Linked DNA regions of Homo sapiens. The protein of the gene in region 1 interacts with the protein of each later gene in a pairwise test. Each region holds a gene or a part of one and is shown in the gene's direction. Other genes may lie near its edges. The genes, in order: FAM9A, HIP1, LMNA, DR1, INTS12, SDCBP and GLE1.

Region 1 (4,064 bases):
AAAAATGTTTTGGAAATCTAATGAAAATTAATAACGAAATACAATGTTCTACTTACAGTCATTGTTGACTTATCTTAATAATTTGTTTGTTTTGTAATGTGACAAAATAGATCTATATTGTTCATCTTGTCAAAAATATTTATGTGCAGAACTGTATTTTAAAACAAGCAAGTACAAAAGGAAATAAATTAAAGTACACGAATATTTTATTACCTCTCAAAATAGCCTGACTTGAAAAGACCATCACTCCATGGCCAATGGATCTACTTGATCCTGAAATAACCGAGAGTGGGGTGTATCTGTTACTATCAGCAGGTCAACCTTACAGCAACAAGAAGAAAGGCCTTTGACAACCTGATGGTCACTCCTGGGATTTCTATGGCTAACTTAAGTGGCAAGAACTAGCAGGAAACTAGTTGACTTTTTTTGAAGAAAGAAATGACAAAAGTTTCTCAATCAGTACCTTTTAGTCATCATTTCTTGGAAACAACTATACATCATACAGTTGATGCCTTTAAAGACACGACTTTGGGTATGGGCTCAGTGGCTCATGCCTGTAATCCCAGCACTTTGGGAGGCTGAGGCAGGTGGATCACTTTGATGTCAGGACTTCGAGACCAGCCTGGCCAACATGACGAAACCCCGTCTCTACTAAAAATACAAAAATTAGCCGAGAATGGTGGCACGCACCTGTAATCCCAGCTCCTTGGGAGGCTGAGGTGGGAGAATCGCTTGAACCCGAGAGGTGGAGGTTGCAGTGAGCCAAGATCTTGCCACTGCACTCCAGCCTGGGCGACAGAGAGAGACTCCGTCTCCAAAACAAACAAACAAGCAAGCAAAAAACATAAAAGCACAATCCATTGATAAAAAGGGTGCAGCTGGACATGGTGGAAACACACAGGGCATGGGAGGGAGCCTGGGCTCCACCTGCAAGGCGAAGGCCATTCTAGCCAAAGGGGCAGGGGTGGCTGGAAGGAGCTCGGGGGCGAGGTCCTAGGCCCCGTCCACTTGGCTTCCATCCCGAGTCCTTGCATCCCTCCCCAGGAGGAGGCGCTGAAAACTTCTGGGGACAGAGGCCCCAAAGAACCACCACCCACCCCAGTCCACAGCAAATATGGGTGGTCCCTTACGGAAAGAGGGAAGGCGTGTCAGCAGGGGTCGTGGCCCCCAAGGTCCTTCACCCGCATGCGCATGCGCACTTAGCTGACCAATCAGAGAGGAGCGTGGATAGCCAGGGCAGCTGCTCTCGCGAGAACTGAGGACCCATTTTTCTAAGAGAGCGTCGTGGTGCCAGTGCCTGCAGGTTCTGTGAGGAAGCGGCATCAGGGGTCCCTCAGGTGAAGCGCTCGCGGTGGGGAGGCAGGAAGTCGAGCATGCGGCCCTCTCGCAACCAGGGTGTGAAGCGCAGGTGAAGCGCTCGCGGTAGGGAGGCAGGAAGTCGAGCATGCTGCCCTCTCGCAACCAGGGTGTGAAGCGCTGAGCGGCCGGCTGACCTGCACACGGGCAGCCCGAGACCCCTGGCCCCTTCTTGGCTTTGGAGTCCACCATGCACGTGCTAAGAGGCCCCAGGTTTTCAAAGCAGGAAATGGCCCTGGCATCGTTGCCTGGGGCCTGGGTCAGGGCGAGGCCCTGAGGGTGGGCTGGGATGGGCCAGGGCAGGGAGGGAGCTGGAGACACCTGAGTGATCCCCAGGGCCCAGGAGTGTCCCCGGGACTTGTGCATGTGTGCAGTGGGTAGGGGTGGGGCAGGGGAGGGGGGCTTGGGGGAATGGAGGGGGTGGAGAGGGGAGCAAGGGAGGGGTGGTGGCAGAGGGTGGAGGGTCGGGGAAGTGGCAGACAGGCAGGGGCCGGGTGTGGGGCCAGGGATGGGGGCAGGGGAGGGGAGGGGTGTGGGGTTCGTGGGGTGAGGGGATGGGGGAAGGGGAGGAGGAGGGGCGGAGTGTGTGGGGAGGCGACAAGCAGGGGTGTTGTGGGGGACAGTTCGAGTGGGTCCCTCCAGCCCGGCCGCCCGTCAGGACAGGACACTTGGGGTCACGAGGGGTCACCTGGGCATCCAGGCAGGCAAGTGGCAGTGCAGCCCCTGACATTCCCCCAGAGATGGCTGGGGAGGTCCTGTGACACCCGTGGTCCTCCGGGCCACGCAGGTCTCTGGGGCACACAGGGGCAGGGCTGAACTCTGTCCCAGGGACACCGCAAGGATCCTGCAGGGGCCATTCAGGTGTGCGAGGCAGCTGTGAGTTCTGCAGCCAGCCCCAGGGACGGGCTGGACGGGCCACGAAGGATAGGAGGGGACACTGGCATCTTCTCCGACCCCTCCTGCTCCCACAGGATACACGGGGTGGGCCAGCCCCACCCTTTCTTGAATCCGAGATCCCGTTGGCTCTCCTTTCACATATCCTGTTTCCTTAGCTTACTTAGTTTGACTTTGCACTCAACCAGGTTCAGGGATCGCCTCTAACTTCCCAGGACAGCCAACCATGGAGCCCGTGGGCAGGAAGCGCAGCAGGAAGGCTGCCAAAGCTCAGTTGGAAGCTCAAGTTACGGCCGCCCAGGGGGCCACGAAAGAAGGTGCACGCCCAAGGAGATGGTCTGTTTGCTCTCTGCGCGGGGGGCACATGGGCAGCCCGAGACCCCTGGCCCCTTTGTGGCTTTGGAGTCCACCATGCACGTGCTAAGAGGCCCCAGGTTTTCAAAGCAGGAAATGGCCCTGGCATCGTTGCCTGGGGCCTGGGTCAGGGCGAGGCCCTGAGGGTGGGCTGGGATGGGCCAGGGCAGGGAGGGAGCTGGAGACACCTGAGTGATCCCCAGGGCCCGGGATTGTCCCGGGGACTTGTGGATGTGTGCAGTGGGGAGGGGTGGGGCAGGGGAGGGGGGCTTGGGGGAATGGAGGTGGTGGAGAGGGGAGCAAGGGAGGGGTGGTGGCAGAGGGGGGAGGGTCGGGGGAGTGGCAGATAGGCAGGGGCCGGGTGTGGGGCCAGGGATGGGGGCAGGGGAGGGGAGGGGTGTGGGGTTCGTGGGGTGAGGGGATGGGGGAAGGGGAGGAGGAGGGGCGGAGTGTGTGGGGAGGCGACAAGCAGGGGTGTTGTGGGGGACAGTTCGAGTGGGTCCCTCCAGCCCGGCCGCCGGTCAGGACAGGACACCTGGGGTCACGAGGGGTCACCTGGGCATCCAGGCAGGCAAGTGGCAGTGCAGCCCCTGACATTCTCCCAGAGATGGCTGGGGAGGTCCTGTGGCACCCGTGGTCCTCCGGGCCACGCAGGTCTCTGGGGCACACAGGGGCAGGGCTGAGCTCTGTCCCAGGGACACCGCAAGGATCCTGCAGGGGCCATTCAGGTGTGCGAGGCAGCTGTGAGTTCTGCAGCCAGCCCCAGGGAGGGGCTGGACGGGCCAGGAAGGATAGGAGGGGACACTGGCATCTTCTCCATCCCCTCCTGCTCCCACAGGATACACGGGGTGGGCCAGCCCCACCCTTTCTTGAATCCGAGATCCCGTTGGCTCTCCTTTCACATATCCTGTTTCCTTAGCTTACTTAGTTTGACTTTGCACTCAACCAGGTTCAGGGATCGCCTCTAACTTCCCAGGACAGCCAACCATGGAGCCCGTGGGCAGGAAGCGCAGCAGGAAGGCTGCCAAAGCTCAGTTGGAAGCTCAAGTTAGGGCCGCCCCGGCGAAGAAGCACACAGGTAAACACAGCCCAAGGGGCCAGAAAAGAAGGTGCACGCCCAAGAGGACGGTCTGTCTGCTCTTTGCGCGGGAGGCACATGGGCAGCCCGAGACCCCTGGCCCCTTCGTGGCTTTGGAGTCCATTGTGCATGTGCCAAGAGGCCCCAGGTTTTCAAAGCAGGATCGAGGGCCTTAGGCTTCCCGTGGGAGGCTCCCCCTCATAGCAGGGTTACAGATGCTCGCAGAGCAGCTCTTCTCCATGGATGCGGTCCTGACATCCAAGGGGTCTGACTTGTGAGCGTTGTTTACTAGGACTTGAACCGGAAGGGCTTCCAAAAATGCCTCGGTAAAACGGTCCGGAGCCCAGTGATTCCATGCATAGCTCTGCTTTAAAGCTTTAAT
Region 2 (3,500 bases), on another chromosome or scaffold:
ACAAAGGCTTTCCAAGGATGAGGCTGGTGGAGAGTTTGAGGAAAGGAAAACACATGGGTGGCAGAGAGAGAGGGATGAGCGTTTTTTTTTGTTTGTTTGTTTTGTTTGTTTGTTTTTTGAGACGGCAGTAATCCCAGGACTTTGGGAGGCTGAGGGGGGTGTGGATCACCAAGTCAGGAGTTCGAGACCAGCCTGGCCAATATGGTGAAACCCCATCTCTACTAAAAATACAAAAGTTAGCCAGGTGTGATGGCGTGTGCCCGTAGTCCCAGCTGCTTGGGAGGCTGAGGCACAAGAATCTCTTGAACCTTGGAGGTGGAGGTTGCAGTGAGCTGAGACTGCACCACTGCACTCCAGCCTGGGCAACAACAGCGAGACTCCGTCTCAAAAATAAATAAATAAATAAATAAATAAATAAATAATAAAAAATCCTTCCTTGACATTCCACATTTTCAGTACACTCTGGGGTCTTGCCTCCTCCTCCCACACCCTGCACTTTTTTGGGGGGGTGTAACTTACATACAGTAGAGTTTACAGATCTCTTGTTGATCGCTTGGGACGTTTTTACATTTTTATATTCTTTGTCACTGTCACCCAGATCAGAGTCCCTCTGTTTTTCTTCTCTTTCAGACTCAAGAACAGCTGGAAGTTCTAGAGAGCTTGAAGCAGGAACTTGCCACAAGCCAACGGGAGCTTCAGGTTCTGCAAGGCAGCCTGGAAACTTCTGCCCAGGTAAATACCTCCTTTTTTTTTTTGGAGATAGAGTCTTCTTCTGTCACTCAGGTTGGAATGCAGTGGTGCGATCGCAGCTCACTGCAGCCTCCACCTCCCTGGGCTCAGGTGATCCTCCCCACTTAGCCCCCCGAGTAACTGGGACTACAGGCACACACCCCTACACCTGGCTAGTTTTTGTATTTTCTTTGGTAGAGACGGGGTTTCACTATGTTGCCCAGGCTGGTCTCGAACTCCAGGGCTCAAGTGATCCTCCCACCTCAGCCTCCTAAAGTGCTGGGATTACAGACATGAGCCTTCATGCCCGGCCTCCTTTCTTGCCCCACCCCTGGCTTTGGCGTTGCTGTCATCCACCATCCTTGGCCTGGCCAAGTCAGCCCCCACTGCAATCAGTGTGTCCCCGGGAGGGAATCAGAGTGGCAGGTTAAAGAGCCATCACCTTCCCAGTCCTTGCAACCCGGTGGTGGGTTGGACCTCTGGGAAGTAGGGACTGTTTAACTCAACCAGCGTCTCCCTCTTTCCTTGTGGTCACCTTTGCAGTCAGAAGCAAACTGGGCAGCCGAGTTCGCCGAGCTAGAGAAGGAGCGGGACAGCCTGGTGAGTGGCGCAGCTCATAGGGAGGAGGAATTATCTGCTCTTCGGAAAGAACTGCAGGACACTCAGCTCAAACTGGCCAGCACAGAGGCAAGTCACGGACATGGACACGAGCGAGCACCTGTGAATTCCCACCGAGGGCCTCTGCGCATGCACGGAGGCTGGGAGGACCCCGGGGCTGCTGAGAAGGGGTTTGGGGCCTTGGCCTGATTGTGCAGACATTCTGTAGGTGTAATGCCAGCAGGCCCTGCATTGCCTGCAGAGTCCATGAGGGAAAGCAAACTGCTGTCTTTTTTGTATGAGAAGAGAAGTTTGGCATCTCCTCCCAGCCATGAGAAGCGGGCGCAGTGATCCATCCCCACAGCCTCTGTGGGCAGCCGCACATCGTGGGCAGCCGCACATCCTGTGCACACAGTTAAAGCGCCTTTCTCTGTCTCAGGCTTACTGGCTTGGACCTCATTGGCCATGACTTGAGCTAAGATGCTAAGAGCCCCAGCCAGGTCATCCTGCTCAGGTTCATTATGGAGTCTAGGGCAGACTCTCACCTCCCTGGACCATTTTTAGGAATCTATGTGCCAGCTTGCCAAAGACCAACGAAAAATGCTTCTGGTGGGGTCCAGGAAGGCTGCGGAGCAGGTGATACAAGACGCCCTGAACCAGCTTGAAGAACCTCCTCTCATCAGCTGCGCTGGGTCTGCAGGTACACTTGCAATTGCCCAGCTGGCAGGGGCCAGGTCCTTACAGCCTGAGACTCTGTTGATGTTGAATCTCATGTGAGACTTAGCTCAGGGGCTCTCAGCCCAGCAGCATGTCAGCATTACCTTAGGGGCGCCCAGGCCCCATCCTAGATCAGTTACATGTGGAAACTCTGTGCATTAGTGCCTATACACTAGTATTTTAGTATTTTCTTCCCCCCCCCCGCCCCCCCGCTTTTTGAGATAGGGTCTTACTCTGTTGCTCAGGCTAGAGTGCAGTGCCGTGGCTCACTGCAACCTCCGCTTCCTGGGCTCACACAATCCTCCCCACTCATTCTCCCAAGTAGCTGGGACTACAGGCACGCAACACCACGCCCAGCTAATTTTTGGTTTCGGTTTGTTGCTCAGACTGGTCTTGAAGACCTGGGCTCAGGCTATCCACCCACCTTGGCCTCCCAAAGTGCTGGGATTACAGGCATGAGCCACCATGCCTGGCCTTGGCTAATTTTTTAATTTTTGGTAGAGACGAGGTCTCACTCTATTGCCCAGGATGGTCCCAAACTTCTGAACTCCCACCTTGGCCTCTCAAAGTGCTGGAATTACAGGCATGAGACACCACGCCAGGCCCAGCAGTAGTATTTTCTAAAGCCCCCAGGTGTGATAGCTACTGCTTTAGACAGTGGGTCACACTGATAAAACACCCACCAGGAGCAGACAATTCTGTTTCTCTAAGGAAAAAACTATGGTCTGAATCAAGAGGTGATTACTCATGAACTTCACGTCTAGGCAGGAAGCTTACCCACTAGGTAAGCTCCTCCATTCAGTGCTTAATTAACGAGGATGAAGCCAGCTATGAGAACTTGCTCTGACCTTGCCCTGTGTTCCCTCTCACAGATCACCTCCTCTCCACGGTCACATCCATTTCCAGCTGCATCGAGCAACTGGAGAAAAGCTGGAGCCAGTATCTGGCCTGCCCAGAAGGTAAGAATGGCCAAGGACAGTCTCTGTCGGCTAGTGATGGCCAGACAGGGTTCAGAAGCACCTGAATGCGGGGATAGTGACAGGTCCCTCTGCATCAAGAAAGGCATGTAGGCAACTCATACAAGAAAGGCATGTAGGCAACTCATAAAACGGGAGGAGAGGGTATGAAAGTGTCACCATCAACCAGACCTGAGAAACTTCTCTTTCCAATCCTGGCAGACATCAGTGGACTTCTCCATTCCATAACCCTGCTGGCCCACTTGACCAGCGACGCCATTGCTCATGGTGCCACCACCTGCCTCAGAGCCCCACCTGAGCCTGCCGACTGTGAGTACCGGGGCATGAGGGGCTGTTCATGGACCAGGGGAGCAGGGGGCCTTTAAAAGTCTCTGTTGGGCCGGGCGCAGTGGCTCATGCCTGTAACTCCAGCACTTTGGGAGGCTGAGGCGGGCAGATCACTTGAGGTCGGGAGTTCAAGAACAGCCTGGCCAACATGGC
Region 3 (3,500 bases), on another chromosome or scaffold:
GAGAGGAACAGCAACCTGGTGGGGGCTGCCCACGAGGAGCTGCAGCAGTCGCGCATCCGCATCGACAGCCTCTCTGCCCAGCTCAGCCAGCTCCAGAAGCAGGTGATACCCCACCTCACCCCTCTCTCCAGGGGCCTAGAGTCTGGGCCGGATGCAGGCTGGAAGCCCAGGGTTGGGGGTGGGGGTGGGGGTGGGAGGTTCCTGAGGAGGAGAGGGATGAAAAGTGTCCCCACAACCACAGAGAAGGGTCGCAGGATGTGGAGTCAGATGGCCTGTGTGCTGTTTCTGTACACTCTTACCTCACCTTCACTTCTCAGGGCTTTGGTTTTCCCATTCGAAAATGGAGGCTGTTCTTAATCTCCCTAACTCAGAGTTGCCACAGGACTCTGCAATGTGAGGTGTTAAAAGCATCAGTATTTTTCTAGTTGGCTGTGCTATTTGTGACAGGAGAAAAAGTCTAGCCTCAGAACGAGAGGTTTCAGTTAGACAAGGGGAAGGACTTCCCAGTTGCCAGCCAAGACTATGTTTAGAGCTTGTGATGTTCAGAGCTGGCTCTGATGAGGGCTCTGGGGAAGCTCTGATTGCAGATCCTGGAGAGAGTAGCCAGGTGTCTCCTACACCGACCCACGTCCCTCCTTCCCCATACTTAGGGCCCTTGGGAGCTCACCAAACCCTCCCACCCCCCTTCAGCTGGCAGCCAAGGAGGCGAAGCTTCGAGACCTGGAGGACTCACTGGCCCGTGAGCGGGACACCAGCCGGCGGCTGCTGGCGGAAAAGGAGCGGGAGATGGCCGAGATGCGGGCAAGGATGCAGCAGCAGCTGGACGAGTACCAGGAGCTTCTGGACATCAAGCTGGCCCTGGACATGGAGATCCACGCCTACCGCAAGCTCTTGGAGGGCGAGGAGGAGAGGTGGGCTGGGGAGACGTCGGGGAGGTGCTGGCAGTGTCCTCTGGCCGGCAACTGGCCTTGACTAGACCCCCACTTGGTCTCCCTCTCCCCAGGCTACGCCTGTCCCCCAGCCCTACCTCGCAGCGCAGCCGTGGCCGTGCTTCCTCTCACTCATCCCAGACACAGGGTGGGGGCAGCGTCACCAAAAAGCGCAAACTGGAGTCCACTGAGAGCCGCAGCAGCTTCTCACAGCACGCACGCACTAGCGGGCGCGTGGCCGTGGAGGAGGTGGATGAGGAGGGCAAGTTTGTCCGGCTGCGCAACAAGTCCAATGAGGTAGGCTCCTGCTCAGGGTCTAAGGGGATACAGCTGCATCAGGGAGAGAGTGGCAAGACAGAAGGATGGCATGTGGAGAGAGGAACATCCTTGCCCTCAGAGGGTGGACCAGGGTGAGCCTGTATATCTCCTCCACACTCTGGTTCCAGGCCTGGCTCCTGGACTCTTTGGCTGTGAGACCTTGAGCAGGTTATTTAACCTCTCAGAGCATCAGTTTCCTCATCTGTAAAATGGGGATGAATACTGATCCCTAAGTCTTTGAGTTGTCAGGAAGATGAAAGATAAGGTATCCGTGTGCCTGGTGCTGCGTATGTGTCCACAGATCATGGCTATTATCCCCGGGGGAAGGGCAGTGACAGGGGTGTGTGTAGATGGAAGGAGAGGCCTCAATTGCAGGCAGGCAGAGGGCTGGGCCTTTGAGCAAGATACACCCAAGAGCCTGGGTGAGCCTCCCCGACCTTCCTCTTCCCTATCTTCCCGGCAGGACCAGTCCATGGGCAATTGGCAGATCAAGCGCCAGAATGGAGATGATCCCTTGCTGACTTACCGGTTCCCACCAAAGTTCACCCTGAAGGCTGGGCAGGTGGTGACGGTGAGTGGCAGGGCGCTTGGGACTCTGGGGAGGCCTTGGGTGGCGATGGGAGCGCTGGGGTAAGTGTCCTTTTCTCCTCTCCAGATCTGGGCTGCAGGAGCTGGGGCCACCCACAGCCCCCCTACCGACCTGGTGTGGAAGGCACAGAACACCTGGGGCTGCGGGAACAGCCTGCGTACGGCTCTCATCAACTCCACTGGGGAAGTAAGTAGGCCTGGGCCTGGCTGCTTGCTGGACGAGGCTCCCCCTGATGGCCAACATCGGAGCCAGCTGCCCCCAACCCAAGTTTGCCAATTCAGGGCCCCTTTCTAGAGCTCTCTGTTGCAGGCTCCAGACTTCTCCACCCAGTAGGCAAACCAAAAGATGCTTCCTCAACAGCACAAGGGGTGGAAGTTAGACAGTGAGGATTGTTAAAGGCAGAGCCATACTCCTACCCGGAGAGCTTGACAGTGTCCCTCTGGGGTGGAAATGAGTTCCTTAGCTCCATCACCACAGAGGACAGAGTAAGCAGCAGGCCGGACAAAGGGCAGGCCACAAGAAAAGTTGCAGGTGGTCACTGGGGTAGACATGCTGTACAACCCTTCCCTGGCCCTGACCCTTGGACCTGGTTCCATGTCCCCACCAGGAAGTGGCCATGCGCAAGCTGGTGCGCTCAGTGACTGTGGTTGAGGACGACGAGGATGAGGATGGAGATGACCTGCTCCATCACCACCACGTGAGTGGTAGCCGCCGCTGAGGCCGAGCCTGCACTGGGGCCACCCAGCCAGGCCTGGGGGCAGCCTCTCCCCAGCCTCCCCGTGCCAAAAATCTTTTCATTAAAGAATGTTTTGGAACTTTACTCGCTGGCCTGGCCTTTCTTCTCTCTCCTCCCTATACCTTGAACAGGGAACCCAGGTGTCTGGGTGCCCTACTCTGGTAAGGAAGGGAGTGGGAACTTTCTGATGCCATGGAATATTCCTGTGGGAGCAGTGGACAAGGGTCTGGATTTGTCTTCTGGGAAAGGGAGGGGAGGACAGACGTGGGGCATGCCCGCCCTGCCTCTCTCCCCCATTCTTGTTGCATGCATATCCTCTCATTTCCCTCATTTTTCCTGCAAGAATGTTCTCTCTCATTCCTGACCGCCCCTCCACTCCAATTAATAGTGCATGCCTGCTGCCCTACAAGCTTGCTCCCGTTCTCTCTTCTTTTCCTCTTAAGCTCAGAGTAGCTAGAACAGAGTCAGAGTCACTGCTCTGGTTCTCTGTCCCCAAGTCTTCCTGAGCCTTCTCCCCTTTTATGTCTTCCCTCTCCTCCTCCGGGCCCCTAGCCTCCCAAACCCCCATTGCCCGCTGGCTCCTTGGGCACAGAACCACACCTTCCTGCCTGGCGGCTGGGAGCCTGCAGGAGCCTGGAGCCTGGTTGGGCCTGAGTGGTCAGTCCCAGACTCGCCGTCCCGCCTGAGCCTTGTCTCCCTTCCCAGGGCTCCCACTGCAGCAGCTCGGGGGACCCCGCTGAGTACAACCTGCGCTCGCGCACCGTGCTGTGCGGGACCTGCGGGCAGCCTGCCGACAAGGCATCTGCCAGCGGCTCAGGAGCCCAGGTGGGCGGACCCATCTCCTCTGGCTCTTCTGCCTCCAGTGTCACGGTCACTCGCAGCTACCGCAGTGTGGGGGGCAGTGGGGGTGGCAGCTTCGGGGACAATC
Region 4 (3,500 bases), on another chromosome or scaffold:
CCTTTCTGAAGTTTTTAGGGAGGTCAGGGGAAGTGAGTTAACTTAATAATAGGACAGTACTATGCTTTTTGGCATCAGATTATTTCTAAAGAAGGTTGATGAAAACAGCTTAACATTTGAAATACTTAAAGTTGTAAATCATTCAAAATGTCTAAAAACCACAGTTTGCATGGGCATGTAGATTTGTAAAGGTGTTTTTGGCATTCTCCCAGAAGAGCAAATCCCTGAAGTTAGAAGTGAGAGCATGTATACTAAAAGGAGTCTGGTTCAACATAATGATTGAAAGACTTCAAGAACTGATGACTTAAATTGATTTACTGTTTTTTGCCACCTATGTTTCATCATTGGTTCACAATACAAAATATGCCTTTGGGGCATTAGTCAATATACCAAAACTATAAAATATAATTTTAAATACTATGACCCAAAAGGAAATTTTATGCCTTGTCTTTTCTGGATTACAGAAGGTATTTAGGGTGTGTGAATTTTTTTTTTTTTTTTTTTTTGAAACAGGGTCTTGCTCTGTCATCCAGGCTGGAGTACAGTAACGCAGTCATGGCTCGTGACATCCTCAATCTCCTGGACTTAAGCAATCCTCTCACCTCAGCCTCCTGAGTAGCTAGAACCATAGGCACGACCCATCACACTCGACTAATTTTTTTACTTTTTGTAGAGACGAGGTCTTGCCATGTTGCCCGCGGTGGTCTTGAACTCCTGGACTAAAGGGATCCTCCCACCTTGGCCTCCCAAAGTACTGGAATTACAGGCATGAACTACCATGCCTAGCCCATTTTTTTTTCCTTATAAAATTTCCTTTCTAAATACGAAAAGGGGAGAAACATTTTTATTAGTGCTTCTTGTATCTTTATAGTCTTTCAGCTACGTTTTTTTTGCCACATCATTTAAATATGTTTTTATTTTTCCTGTTAAGTTTTATTTTCAAGAGAAACCTGTTGGCTGACTATAAGTGCTGAATTTCATGACTTTTATTTCCACCAGTATTTTTTAAACTTGGCAGTTTGAGTATCTGCTAAAAATAGCTTCCTGTTGGTATATTGGACAAAAGAAAAACTTCTGTTCTTTTATTCTGTCCTACCAGAACTTAGTAGAGAATGTGTTACCAGCCTACTTTTTCTAAGTCAAATGACACAAAATGTTTTTTCTTACTAAAACCATATGTTCTTATAATGGGCTTTTTTTTCTTCCCTGCTTACAGGAAATGCTTTGGTCTTTTAAAAATTAGTCAGAATGAAAAGTGAAGGCATGTGCCTTGGTTCTTCAAGTTTTAACTGATTTGCCACCTAATATTTAGCAGATTGATAAAATATTTGTCTTGGCTGCCCAGACAGTTGTTGTACAACTATAAAATAGGTAAAATTATTAGAAAACAGCAAAACATTCCCCTCCCCCAAAGAAAAGCCCACAAAAACTTTAGGTCTACGGGTTGGGGGAAAGCTGTGTTTTATCACCCTTTCATATTTTAATATTTTCATTTCTCTAGCACTAGAAAGTTTGGGATTTGGCTCTTACATCAGTGAAGTAAAAGAAGTCTTGCAAGAGTGTAAAACAGTAGCATTAAAAAGAAGAAAGGCCAGTTCTCGTTTGGAAAACCTTGGCATTCCTGAAGAAGAGTTATTGAGACAGCAACAAGAATTATTTGCAAAAGTAAGTAATTTATTTAAATTATTTTCCTCTGAATCCTACCCTGTTTGCTAACTGAAATTGCTTCCTAAATTAACAGACATACCCAGAGGATTCCCTTTTTCTAGGTAGTTGATTATAGATTCTGGTGTTCAGAGCTGACCAATTTGACTCTGGTTTATGTGAAAGTAAATATTTGCAGCAATCTGTTCTAAAGAGAACAACTCCAAATACCTATTGAAATTTCACTTGATATTTTTTCAGACAGAATGACCATTTTAAGGCATGAAAAGTATACCTAAATATTCTTAAGATTTAAAATGATGAGCTGATGAGAAAATACTATATCAAATTTTATGATGCATGACATACCAGCAAAATCTGATTAATATCAACTGTGTAGTTAAATTAGGTCTTTAATATACACCTTTGAAGCATTTTAATCTTAAAAAATATTTTAAAGCTAGTAGAGCAAAGGGAGAAAATGTCTTCTTCCTTGCTTGTAATAATTCTAATATCTAGACTCTGAAGGATTAGAACCAAATACTAATGTTCTCTGTTTCAAAAAGAGAAGGGAGGGGAATTGGTGGCAATGCTGTGTTTTCCCTTCTAAGTTCTGGCCTCTCATTTGAAATTATAAGGCAGCTTTGGATTGAATAGAAGAGAAGCCGTAGTAACCATTAGAACTGGGAAGTATCATTTTAGGTAAACTCTTCCAGGTTAGTCCTGTAGCTGATCTCTCTGCAGCCATAACAATCAGTTTGGTTTACATCAAACTGCATTTTAGTCTTAAGTATTGTTGGTCACTAGACACCAAGTACCATTTAAACAAGATAAAAAGAAAAACTTACATTTATTGAGTTCTAACCACGTGTTAATCACATTGCCAAGTAATTTTCCTGCATTATCTCATTTAATCCTCCCAACAACCTATCATAGGCACTAAAGAGGAAAAGCCTTTGAAGCAGGCGTTAGTACATGCAATGTTATAATTCATATGAATATGAGGTACAAAAGAAGAGGTGTTGATGTTTTAAAAACATTAATGGCTATTTATTGATATTGCAGACCACCTAGAGAATGCTAAATTGAACATTTAGTGACAGAAGATTTTCTCCTGGATACTTTAAATACATAAAAACTTGGCAGAGTTTTTATGAAATATAAATTTTATTGTATTCATTTACATATTAAAAAATAGACTCAGAGGCGGAAAAACTTCCTTGAAATTGTTTGTCATTTGTTCTACAGTTACTTACTGAAGTCATTACTATTTACCAAGCATCATGCTAGGTGCTAGGCTTACAAGAGTGAACAAGGAGACAGGGTTCCTGTCATTATAGAGCTTAATCTACTGGGGAAGATTGAGTGGGAAAGATTGACTTAAATAAAACAGTAAGTTCAGAAAGTTAGGAAGTGTTGGAGTCTATATTTAAACTTAGGTATTTTGACCCAAAAGCCTGTACTGTTTCTAACATACCATGCTGATGCTCTAGCCTCCATTTTATATGCTTAAACTTATTATGGGGCTTTTAAATAGAATATGTATTATCCTTGCCAGGGCAAAATATAAAGAAATAATTGACTGCCTGCTATATCTGTCTTCACCTTTCTATCCCTATTATCTGTTTTTTTATTCCTCTTTTTTGTCTCCCTTGTTTCTTACCCTGACTTATGTATGAAGATCTCTAGTATTTCTTTACTATTGTGAGGATGACCAGCGGAGAGGTAATATTATAGCAGTTGCCTAGTACTTCTTCCCTAGAGCACTGAAGTTCTAAATATGAAAGAGTGGATAAGTAAATATATCTTTTTTATCACTTTCATTTTGTTTCATTTTTTAGACTTTAAATATTAAC
Region 5 (2,563 bases), on another chromosome or scaffold:
TGGTTTATGTAGTTTTTCTTCTCTGGATAACTTCATAAGATAGTTAATATGTTACTGTAAGAAAACTTCCTATCAATTTTCAGAGTATGTGGACAAATATCTGGATTCCTTCTCTTATAAATCGAATATCTCAGAACTCTATTTTTGTTACTTTTCACATTGATTAAAAATGTATGCATGCAGACAATATTGAAGGCTACCTTGATTTCAAGAGCTAAAAATGTTTTATCAACTATTTCAGAGTAAAGTTCTAAATTATAACTGGATATATTTTAGGTATAATAACTACCATTTTTTAAGTAGGATGTTATTTTGTAAAATTTTATCTTTTACCTATATGTGAATGTAATGCTTTTGTGAATCTTCTTAAGAGTATAAAGGTAGAAAAGGTGTCAATAAGAAGTTCAATTCAAAATTAATTTGAATACGTACATTTGTGCCTAATATGAAAGTGAAAAAATATATTCTTGTGTGAACAAGAGCAATATGTATTTATATAGTGGCATTGGTACCATTGTGAGCTTCTGATTAGCCAGGAAAGTTAATCAGAGAAGTTGAAGTGTTATACCCTTATGAAATATATCAGAGAATGAGATCAGTCCTACCCAAAATGTCACTGTGCAGCCTAATGAGGCAATTGATAAAATCCTTATTAAAGGAGCAGGAGACTCTTACATGATAGTTTAACCGGAATCATGGGCAAATTGTGAAACTAAAATCATGAGAACTTTTTAACACATCATAAAAATTGTACACTTCCAAGTAATTAACTTTGCATATATTTTGTACTCCTGTAACTGTTGCTCAAAATTTAGGAGGACATTTTTTTTTAATGGGTTTAGAATCTATACAGCTGTCTTCTTTCTCTCACACAGTCACTCAGTAAATAAATATTGACTGAATCTCTTCATCTTGGATATGTTCTCCTGAATATTCTGGGTATGGGCATTTTTGCTATTAAGAGTGAATTAAATTTTTGAAATGATCCCTAGTTATTTGGAGAAAAGTCTAAAAGAATTAGATGTTTAACTAAGGTCGATAATACTTTGTTGGGTAAAAACTATGTTAAAGCACTAAATCTGGTTTTCAGATATAGCTTAGAATTGAATCTAAAAGCAATTCCCAAAAAGGAATTTCATATATTTTCTTTTGGAATCATTAGAACAAGAATATGGTATCAAAAATTTTCTGCTTTGCAAATGATAATACCCACTAGATACAGATAAGTTTTGTTCTGTGTGGTTTTTCAGATCAGCTTCATAAGAACCTAATTTGGTGGTGTGATTTAAATTTCCCAATTCATAACTTGGGATGTTTATACAGGTACTGATTAAACTTGGCTCTAATGTAATTATTTACTTTATTTTTTTAGACATCCACAGTTATTTCAGGAAATTCTTCTAGTGCCAGCGTTTCCTCGTCAGTAACTAGTGGCTTAACTGGATGGGCAGCTTTTGCAGCCAAAACTTCCTCTGCTGGTCCTTCAACAGCAAAATTGAGTTCAACAACACAAAACAATACTGGGAAACCTGCTACTTCGTCAGCTAACCAGAAACCTGTGGGTTTGACTGGTCTGGCAACATCATCCAAAGGTGGAATAGGTTCCAAAATAGGTTCCAATAACAGCACTACGCCCACTGTACCTTTAAAACCACCTCCACCTCTAACCTTGGGTAAAACTGGCCTTAGTCGCTCAGTTAGTTGTGACAATGTCAGCAAAGTAGGTCTTCCTAGTCCAAGTAGTTTAGTTCCAGGAAGCAGCAGCCAACTAAGTGGGAATGGAAATAGTGGAACATCAGGACCTAGTGGAAGTACTACCAGCAAAACTACTTCAGAATCCAGCAGCTCTCCCTCAGCATCCCTTAAAGGCCCAACTTCACAAGAATCACAGCTCAATGCTATGAAGCGATTACAGATGGTCAAGAAGAAAGCTGCCCAAAAGAAACTCAAGAAGTAATGTGGCCAAGTAGGTTTTTGTATCATATTAGCCTAAAGATGAAAGGCTTATTATTATGATATAATCTGTAATACACTGTAATTTAATAAAAGTCTTCATAATCAAATTTCTATTGTTTCTTACCTTAAAATGCTAAATATTATATAACAAAACTTGGAAACTTTCATTTTAAATCAATCTTCAACATTTTTATTCTAATGATTTCCATAGTGTGTGAAAACAATGATTAGAATGACTGGTTCTCAATGAGATCTTCAGAAGATTGAAAGCATCTGTGAATTTAAGGAAAAAGAAATAGTTCATCTTCTAGCAAAGCCCCAAGAGTTGATCCTGATGAATGAGGTGCCTTATGTGGCGGCAGGGACGACCCAACATAGTTTTCTATTTTCCTCCCCGTATTCTGGGTGTTCATTTTCTGTGCTAGCCCCATTTCAACTGACTCTCCCTCTCCCTCCCAATTATTTCATCTTTTTCAAAATTATTTTTTCATTATTGATTTCTCATATCAATGGATTTTCCTAATTGATTTATCATACTTCATATTATATCTTTACCTTTTTTATCACCTCATTTCAATTATTTAAGGGTATATCTTTTTCCAATAAA
Region 6 (3,500 bases), on another chromosome or scaffold:
AGGCCCAGCATCACCAAGTAGAGTCTAGAAGGGTGGATTTGGAGCTGACAAACAGTAGTTTAATATCTGTTACCACCTACTCCTTTGACTACTCAGTATATCCACACACTTGTACAAACATTTGAATTTCATGTGACAACAACAACAACTTTATAGTTTCTCCTTGAAAGATGAATTTCTTCATAAAATCAAAGTTCAAACTTTATAAAGGGCTCCATAATAAATACCTTAGGCTTTCATGGTCACTTATGATCTTTATCACATATTCTTATTGTTATTTGTTTATTTACAATCTTTAAAAATATAAAAATCATTTTTAACTCAGGGGTGTACAAAATGAAGCCATGTACCCTTCAATATAAATGAAGTTGCTCTCACCCTTTCTCTAGAAAGGGATGATACCAGTTAATGTGGCCATCTCTGGGCAGTCATCATGGTATTGATTACTATATGATACTAATTACCCTTCTAAGTATTCACATTCCCAACAGAATATTTTTAATTTAAAGGCAAAAGTGTAAAGTTAACCACTACCAACAATTCATACATAAAGGTAAAAAGAGGTATAGAGGAACAGAAAGATTAATTGCTGTATTTACAGAAAATATACAAATACAAAGAAGAACAGAGTCATAGCTGCTCTGATTCTTATTTTAGTAACTGATCATGAGGCTGTAGTTAAAATTTAGAACTTCCTTTGTTCACTACATGGATGCTTAGATCCCTTTGCCCAAATACCTAGAAGGGTGATATAACCTTCATTTTTGTGTCTGCATCTCCAGGGTTCTTCAGTGCGCCGCCTTTTATTTTTCTTCTGTTCTATTTTAAATTAATTTGTTGCTGGAGATTTCTGTTATCTCTTCATATCTAGTGAATTTTTCATTTCACATATTTTATTCTTCTTCTCTTGATGTTCCATCTGGATCTTCCTCTCCCCAGCTTTATTGAGGTATAATTAACAAATATAAATTGTATATATTCAACTGTATATATCAATACAACTTGATGTATTGATAAACACACACAAACACACATTGTGAAATGATTACCACAGTCAGGGTTATTAACGTATCTGTCATCTCACATGGTTACATTTCTTTTGGTGTGTGGTGAGAACACTTAAGATGTACTCTTAGCAACTTTCAAGTATACCGTACAGTATTATTAATTATAGTTACTATGCTGTACATTAGATCTCCAGAACGTACTCATATGATAACTGAGAAAGTTTGTACACTTTGACCAACATTTTTCTCATTCTTTGCCCTGCCCAACCCCAGCCCCTGACAACCTTCCTTCTACTCTCTATTTCTGTGAGTTTGACTCTTTTCAGATTCCACATATAAGTGGGACCCAGACAGTACTTGTCTTTCTGTGTCTGGTTTATTTCACTTGGAATAATATTCTCTACATTTATTCATGTTGTCCAAATGGCAGGATTTCCTTTTTTTAGTGGCCTAATATTATTCCATTTTCTTTTTGGTTGGGGAAAGGTTCCACTTAAAATAAACCAGTTTTGATTAGGAAAACTGGAAAGAATTAGAAACTTGAAACATGGTATATGACACAGGTCCCTAATGTAGGTATTCTGGGGCATTCTGGTTTGTGCATATGATTTGTTAATCCATAGATGGTTACTAGAGGGGAAGAGACATAATAGTTGACTGTCTTATGTGTGCCAGTGCCCATACAACATGCACTTTTCATTTAATCCTGTCAGTAACAGTGAGGTAAGAAATTTGCCCCTTTTATGGAAATTCTGAAAGGATAAGTAGATTGTCAAAGATCGTGACATCATGAACCGTCTGGAAAATGTTTCAAAAGTATATGGCCTTTAAGTTCAAAGATAATAAATTTGAGATGAAGACAAGCCAGTATACCGGTGAAACAAATGCCAGTGAATTCAAAGGGCAACAGAGAGTCATTGAATCTATTAGAGATGATATGTGTGGGAATAAGTTAGTGAAGAATTAGTAGTAGAGCCAGTGCCATTTTCATAGACATCAAACTTTATCGGAAGGAAATTATTTGTGGATTGCTTTTTGGAAAGCCAAAACTGAGTAAGTTCCAGTTAATTATCATTGTTTTTTTCAAGGAGAGTGTTTCTAGATATTGACACATTGTATATGGTTTTGTCAGCAGTTGGTAGCAAGACCTTCCAGTATAAACTATATGGTGGCTCCTGTAACTGGTAATGATGTTGGAATTCGTAGAGCAGAAATTAAGCAAGGGATTCGTGAAGTCATTTTGTGTAAGGATCAAGATGGAAAAATTGGACTCAGGCTTAAATCAATAGATAATGTAAGTATTTTAAATACCTATTTGAATTTGTCTAAATCTCTTACATAATAAGTGATTAATGTTAAAATAATTTGAAATGGAAATGCTTTAATTATAATAGTGCATCTGTAGTTGAGAATATTTTAAATCTACTAACTTAAATGTTTTCAATTGGGGATGTTCTATTTTGCAGAGGCATAGTTGGGACTTCTGACCACATTACTTTGAAAGATGTTTCTTTTCTGAATATTCTAACTGGAATACATTTCACTGGCCTACATATATTATAGTTTGTATAATAGAATTGTGGCAATTAAATAGAGCAGATGTGAAGGTTAAGAAAAAACTTTCCAATGAGAGTCAATGTCAGTGTGCCTTTTTTTTTTTTTTTTTGAGACGGAGTCTCGTTCTGTCGCCAGGCTGCAGTGCAGTGGTGTGATCTTGACTCACTGCAACCTCTGCCTCCCGGATGTGTGTGCATTTTTAAACCAAATGATCAGTATTTAACTGGTGAGATGGTTTTTGCAGATTTGTTATTAACATCCTTCACATTTGAATTTAATATGTCATTTTCTGAGTAAAAAAAGATGGAATATTCTTTCTAATTAGGGCAGCCTTTACTTTATAATTACCTCTCACCTTAACATACTGAAGATATGAAACAGGGTTACTCTCTGAGGAACCATTTATAATTGTGAAGGACATGTTGAGTCTTTACCCCAATTTATAGTTTTAGCCATTACCTTATTGGATTCGGTTTCAGTCATACATCTCTAGCTTAGTGCATCCAGCCTTTCCACATAGAAAATTATAAGTGTGGTGCACTGCTGTAAATGGAGGAGGCTGATCTTGGCAGGAGGCCCCCGCCCTGCCTGCCCACCCAGGGGGCTGAGGCCATCGATGATGGCCTTGCTCACTTGTATGTCACTCAAAATACATCTGCGTGCTTAGTTGGGATGCTCTGACTTTGCTGCCCTTTCTCCAGAATCTTCAGGGAATAGAGTATACTGCTGCTCCTTCCGCCAGGATTGCTCTTGTGTTCTTTCCTCTGTCCTAAAGAGAAAAGATACTTTTCATAGGCCCCTTGGCCCCACTGTAGGTAATAGTTGCAGTGGATTTGTTCACTTGGCCAAAGGGCATTTGTTCATTTATGGGGTGCTACCTAGTTCTTGCTTATCATTCTACAATGTAACAGATGTGTGATAGAAATATGTGACCTA
Region 7 (3,500 bases), on another chromosome or scaffold:
GTGAGACCCTATTTCAAAAAAAAATAAAAAGCTCCTGAAGTCACCATACATGAACAATGATCCTGTATCATTTGAGAACACAAGTGGTATTCTGTATACTCTCCTTACTAAGTTTGGGAGGTATACCATACCTTTAGGAAGGCGTCCATTCATTAGAGGAAAAGAAGAGTAGTTCATTAAGACCTGATTGGTTAAATGGAGATATTGCCATATAAAGAGAAATGCTTTAGAAGAAAGTTGGGTGTTTCCATTTATTCCCTTGTTAGCAAGTTCAGTGGCATTGTGGTTGAAATTTTTGATAGGTGTGAAAGATGAAGGGCTGATTGTGCTTTATGAATCTGTCCTGTGAGTGTGAATTTTCATTTTCTGCTCTGACAGTGCCTGTCTTTCCCTCTAGGTGTGTGGGAATGCCCTCATGAAGCAATACCAGGTTCAGTTCTGGAAGATGCTAATTCTCATCAAAGAGGACTACTTTCCCAGGTATCAGGCTTGTTGAGCAGACAGCAGGGGATTAAGTAACTCATAACCAGGCCTCAGATACCCAAGGGTGCTATTACCTGCTGGTTTTGATTCAAGTTAAAAACACCTGTACTAAGTATGACATCTTTCCTACTCCAGTCCCTCTCGTTGATATTTGAATAAATGCTTTTGAACCTTAATGAGAGTCTGTCTTAAATATCATTGCCCAAACAAAAACACAAATTAGGGGCTGAGCACAGTGGCTTATGCCTATAATTATGCCTATAATTGCAGCTCTTTGGGAGGCCACAGGAGGAGGATCACTTGAGCCCAGGTGTTCAAAACCAGCCTGGGCAATATAGCAAGACCCCATCTCTACAAAAAAAAAATTAGCCAGGCATGATGGCATGCATCTATAGTCCCAGCTACTAGGGAAGCTGAGACAGGAGGATCGCTTGAGCCCAAGAGTTCAAGGCCTCGGTGAGCTATGATCGCACCACCGCGCTGCACTCCAGCCTAGGTGACAGAGTGAGACACCGTTTCCAAAAGATAGGTGTATATCATAGGTGTGATTCATGTGTCTTTCTCTCCCTGTAGAATTGAAGCTATCACAAGCTCAGGACAGATGGGCTCCTTCATACGCCTCAAGCAGTTCTTGGAGGTAAGATGCCCTTAGACCAACATGCCCCACACTGTTGTTGGGCTGGAATGCACCTATGTCTGACAAGTCTTGGACCTTCCGATGCTCTGATTGCACTCTCTTCCTTAGTTCTTCCAAACCCTTCTTTTTGTTCCTAATTCCCTCTTAACCTTTGGAGTAAGGGCTGCCATTTCCTCTTCTTTATATGTATCATTCTCTATACTGCCTGTGAGAAAGCTATGCTGAGATGAGTAAAATATATTTAGTGTATCTCCTCTCATTAATATATATTTTTTTTGCATGTTGGCCAAGGTTATTTTCTTAGTCTCAGGTCTGGGGAATTGGTAAGTGTCATCACTTTTCTCCATGAGATCAAACTGCACTTTCAGTTGGACTCTTCCCCTACTTCCAAGTGCCAAGAGATTGTAAAAGGTTAATTTTGACAAAGAATTTAGAACACTATAGTGGGTTTGCCAAGATAGCCTGCTGACTTTTCAGCTTCTCAAAGCTCGATTGTGAAAATAGTGATTGTGAAAGATGAGGTTAGCCTGTAGGGAGACAAGAGTGGGACAGGAATAATAAGAGCATTTCATTTGTTGTCTGGAGCAGATCATGCAGAAGTGGACATCTTATACAGAACCATCAGTCTTACTGGCTTTTTCCTTTTTGTTCACTGTTCCATAGGGCTGAAATATGGTGTTCCTCAAAGCTTCTTTTAACCATTAAGTGTTGGGAACACTGTTATCAGAAACTCATTCTGTTTTCTTCATCTTTCCCTGACCAGAAATGTTTGCAACACAAGGACATTCCTGTCCCCAAGGGCTTTCTGACTTCCTCCTTCTGGCGCTCCTGATGTCACTCCATCACCCACCATCACCGCTGCTGCAAAGAGGCAATAATAAAGGAACTGAAGACAGCTGTATTTGGGAGAAGTCATGTCAGATTCAGAAATTTGCCATTATGTATTTTTATGTATTTATGCCTTGTGACTAGGAGAGGAGATTTTCATGGGTCACAAAATTCTTGGAGGTCCCTTAGTAGATTTGGTAGTTCCTTAAGAGATCCACGTGATAAAATAAATGGAGTTGGCCTTTCTTGTTTTTTGCAAAAGTGATAAAAGGTCTTTAGCACTTGGTCTCCTCCCTTGTCTCTAGTGTCTTTCAGAAAGTTGGCAATACCTTAACAAATGCACTCTGAGCTGGAGGGAGCCCACCATTTGCACCCACCTACCCACCCTCACCCCTGTTCAGATGAATTTCCAGAAAGAGCTAAGGCTCATAAGGTTCCCTTTTAAGTATTATTTAATAGTTGAGGCCAGATACTTACATGCAAGTCTGGGTTATGGTTGTTTTGCCTTTCTCAGCTTGTGAAGTCATTCTAAAGCTAGAGGAAGTATGTGATATACACATGGACTAAGGCTCAGGTGACACTATGGCTAGATTAACATCTGGGATTAGGACTGGAAACACATGTCATTTTGAACTAAGGGAAACTCTTTGTCATCCTAATTTGGAATTTGGTCCCTGGATGGCTAGGGATCCATGAACCAGGCAGGTACCTTTTTTGTTTTTGTTTTGTTTTGTTTCTTTTCTGTTTGAATTAAGATGGGCTAAGATGGGGCTTGCAACATTAAACATGAGCTGAGCATCCATAAGCATTGAATTGGGATTAAATAAAGATGTTGGGCAGGAACTGAACACTGCTAATATGATGATAAATATGCCTGACTAAAGCCACTACAGAAATCCAGAGATTGGCTGTTAAAATTTGTTTTGTGGAAAGACTAATTCTCTTTGATACTGCAGAGGCAGTGGCCATGGATCTGTTCCTCTGTGCTAAATGTCTTGTGGCAGGGTGTGTTTGTGGGGGAGTGTTCACTGGTACTCTTGAGTGGCCTGAAGTGACCCATTCTATGAATTGTTAATTAAGGTGCCAAAAAAAATTAATAATAAAGCTTGGTTTTTTGAAAAACCCATTGCTGATATATTGGTTCAATATGATCAATTTCCTCTGCCTTGAGCTATGTAAATCATGATAGTATACAAGTCCAGGTATAGAGCGGTATGCATTTATTCCTTTTGGTCTTCTTGACCTACACCTTGGGAATATTACTTCTTTTTCTGTCATTTCCTTTTTTGGAATTATGTACTAATAACTGACCCTATTTTATCTAGCAAGAGATGTGAAAGTGTATTAAAATCTTTGAAAGACACAATAGGCCGTGCTTAGTGGCTCATGCCTGCAGTCCCAACACTTTGGGAGGCTGAGGTGGGAGGATTGTTTAAGTCCAGGAGTTCAAGACCAGCCTGGGCAACATAGTGAGACCCCCATGTCTAAAACAAATTTTTTTGGCCAGGCGCGGTGGCTCACGTCTTACCAGCCTGGCCAACATGGCAAAACC

The links.
Region 2: the proteins of FAM9A (region 1) and HIP1 interact in binary tests that used the Homo sapiens proteins (3 or more experiments, as listed by UniProt).
Region 3: the proteins of FAM9A (region 1) and LMNA interact in binary tests that used the Homo sapiens proteins (3 or more experiments, as listed by UniProt).
Region 4: the proteins of FAM9A (region 1) and DR1 interact in binary tests that used the Homo sapiens proteins (3 or more experiments, as listed by UniProt).
Region 5: the proteins of FAM9A (region 1) and INTS12 interact in binary tests that used the Homo sapiens proteins (3 or more experiments, as listed by UniProt).
Region 6: the proteins of FAM9A (region 1) and SDCBP interact in binary tests that used the Homo sapiens proteins (3 or more experiments, as listed by UniProt).
Region 7: the proteins of FAM9A (region 1) and GLE1 interact in binary tests that used the Homo sapiens proteins (3 or more experiments, as listed by UniProt).

Annotation. Positions count from the first base shown.
Region 1 is NC_000023.11:8,798,584-8,802,647, reverse strand, and holds the start of FAM9A (protein FAM9A), read left to right. Parts: upstream 1-1,264; 5' UTR 1,265-1,337; exon of another isoform or gene 1,338-1,408; intron 1,409-2,438; 5' UTR 2,439-2,476; coding exon 2,477-2,567; intron 2,568-3,553; coding exon 3,554-3,682; intron 3,683-4,064.
Region 2 is NC_000007.14:75,553,942-75,557,441, reverse strand, and holds part of HIP1 (huntingtin-interacting protein 1), read left to right. Parts: intron 1-630; coding exon 631-732; intron 733-1,272; coding exon 1,273-1,416; intron 1,417-1,890; coding exon 1,891-2,026; intron 2,027-2,915; coding exon 2,916-3,002; intron 3,003-3,221; coding exon 3,222-3,329; intron 3,330-3,500. UniProt on the Homo sapiens protein: Plays a role in clathrin-mediated endocytosis and trafficking. Involved in regulating AMPA receptor trafficking in the central nervous system in an NMDA-dependent manner. Regulates presynaptic nerve terminal activity.
Region 3 is NC_000001.11:156,135,211-156,138,710, forward strand, and holds part of LMNA (lamin), read left to right. Parts: coding exon 1-102; intron 103-650; coding exon of another isoform or gene 651-690; coding exon 691-911; intron 912-1,003; coding exon 1,004-1,226; intron 1,227-1,710; coding exon 1,711-1,818; intron 1,819-1,902; coding exon 1,903-2,022; intron 2,023-2,443; coding exon 2,444-2,533; coding exon of another isoform or gene 2,534-2,554; exon of another isoform or gene 2,555-2,656; intron 2,657-3,277; coding exon 3,278-3,500.
Region 4 is NC_000001.11:93,352,407-93,355,906, forward strand, and holds part of DR1 (protein Dr1), read left to right. Parts: intron 1-1,501; coding exon 1,502-1,665; intron 1,666-3,500. UniProt on the Homo sapiens protein: The association of the DR1/DRAP1 heterodimer with TBP results in a functional repression of both activated and basal transcription of class II genes.
Region 5 is NC_000004.12:105,682,127-105,684,689, reverse strand, and holds the end of INTS12 (integrator complex subunit 12), read left to right. Parts: intron 1-1,372; coding exon 1,373-1,957; 3' UTR 1,958-2,063; downstream 2,064-2,563. UniProt on the Homo sapiens protein: Component of the integrator complex, a multiprotein complex that terminates RNA polymerase II (Pol II) transcription in the promoter-proximal region of genes.
Region 6 is NC_000008.11:58,573,761-58,577,260, forward strand, and holds part of SDCBP (syntenin-1), read left to right. Parts: intron 1-2,139; coding exon 2,140-2,301; intron 2,302-3,500. UniProt on the Homo sapiens protein: Multifunctional adapter protein involved in diverse array of functions including trafficking of transmembrane proteins, neuro and immunomodulation, exosome biogenesis, and tumorigenesis.
Region 7 is NC_000009.12:128,539,219-128,542,718, forward strand, and holds the end of GLE1 (mRNA export factor GLE1), read left to right. Parts: intron 1-397; coding exon 398-480; coding exon of another isoform or gene 481-496; exon of another isoform or gene 497-659; intron 660-1,056; coding exon 1,057-1,120; intron 1,121-1,883; coding exon 1,884-1,952; 3' UTR 1,953-3,070; downstream 3,071-3,500. UniProt on the Homo sapiens protein: Required for the export of mRNAs containing poly(A) tails from the nucleus into the cytoplasm. May be involved in the terminal step of the mRNA transport through the nuclear pore complex (NPC).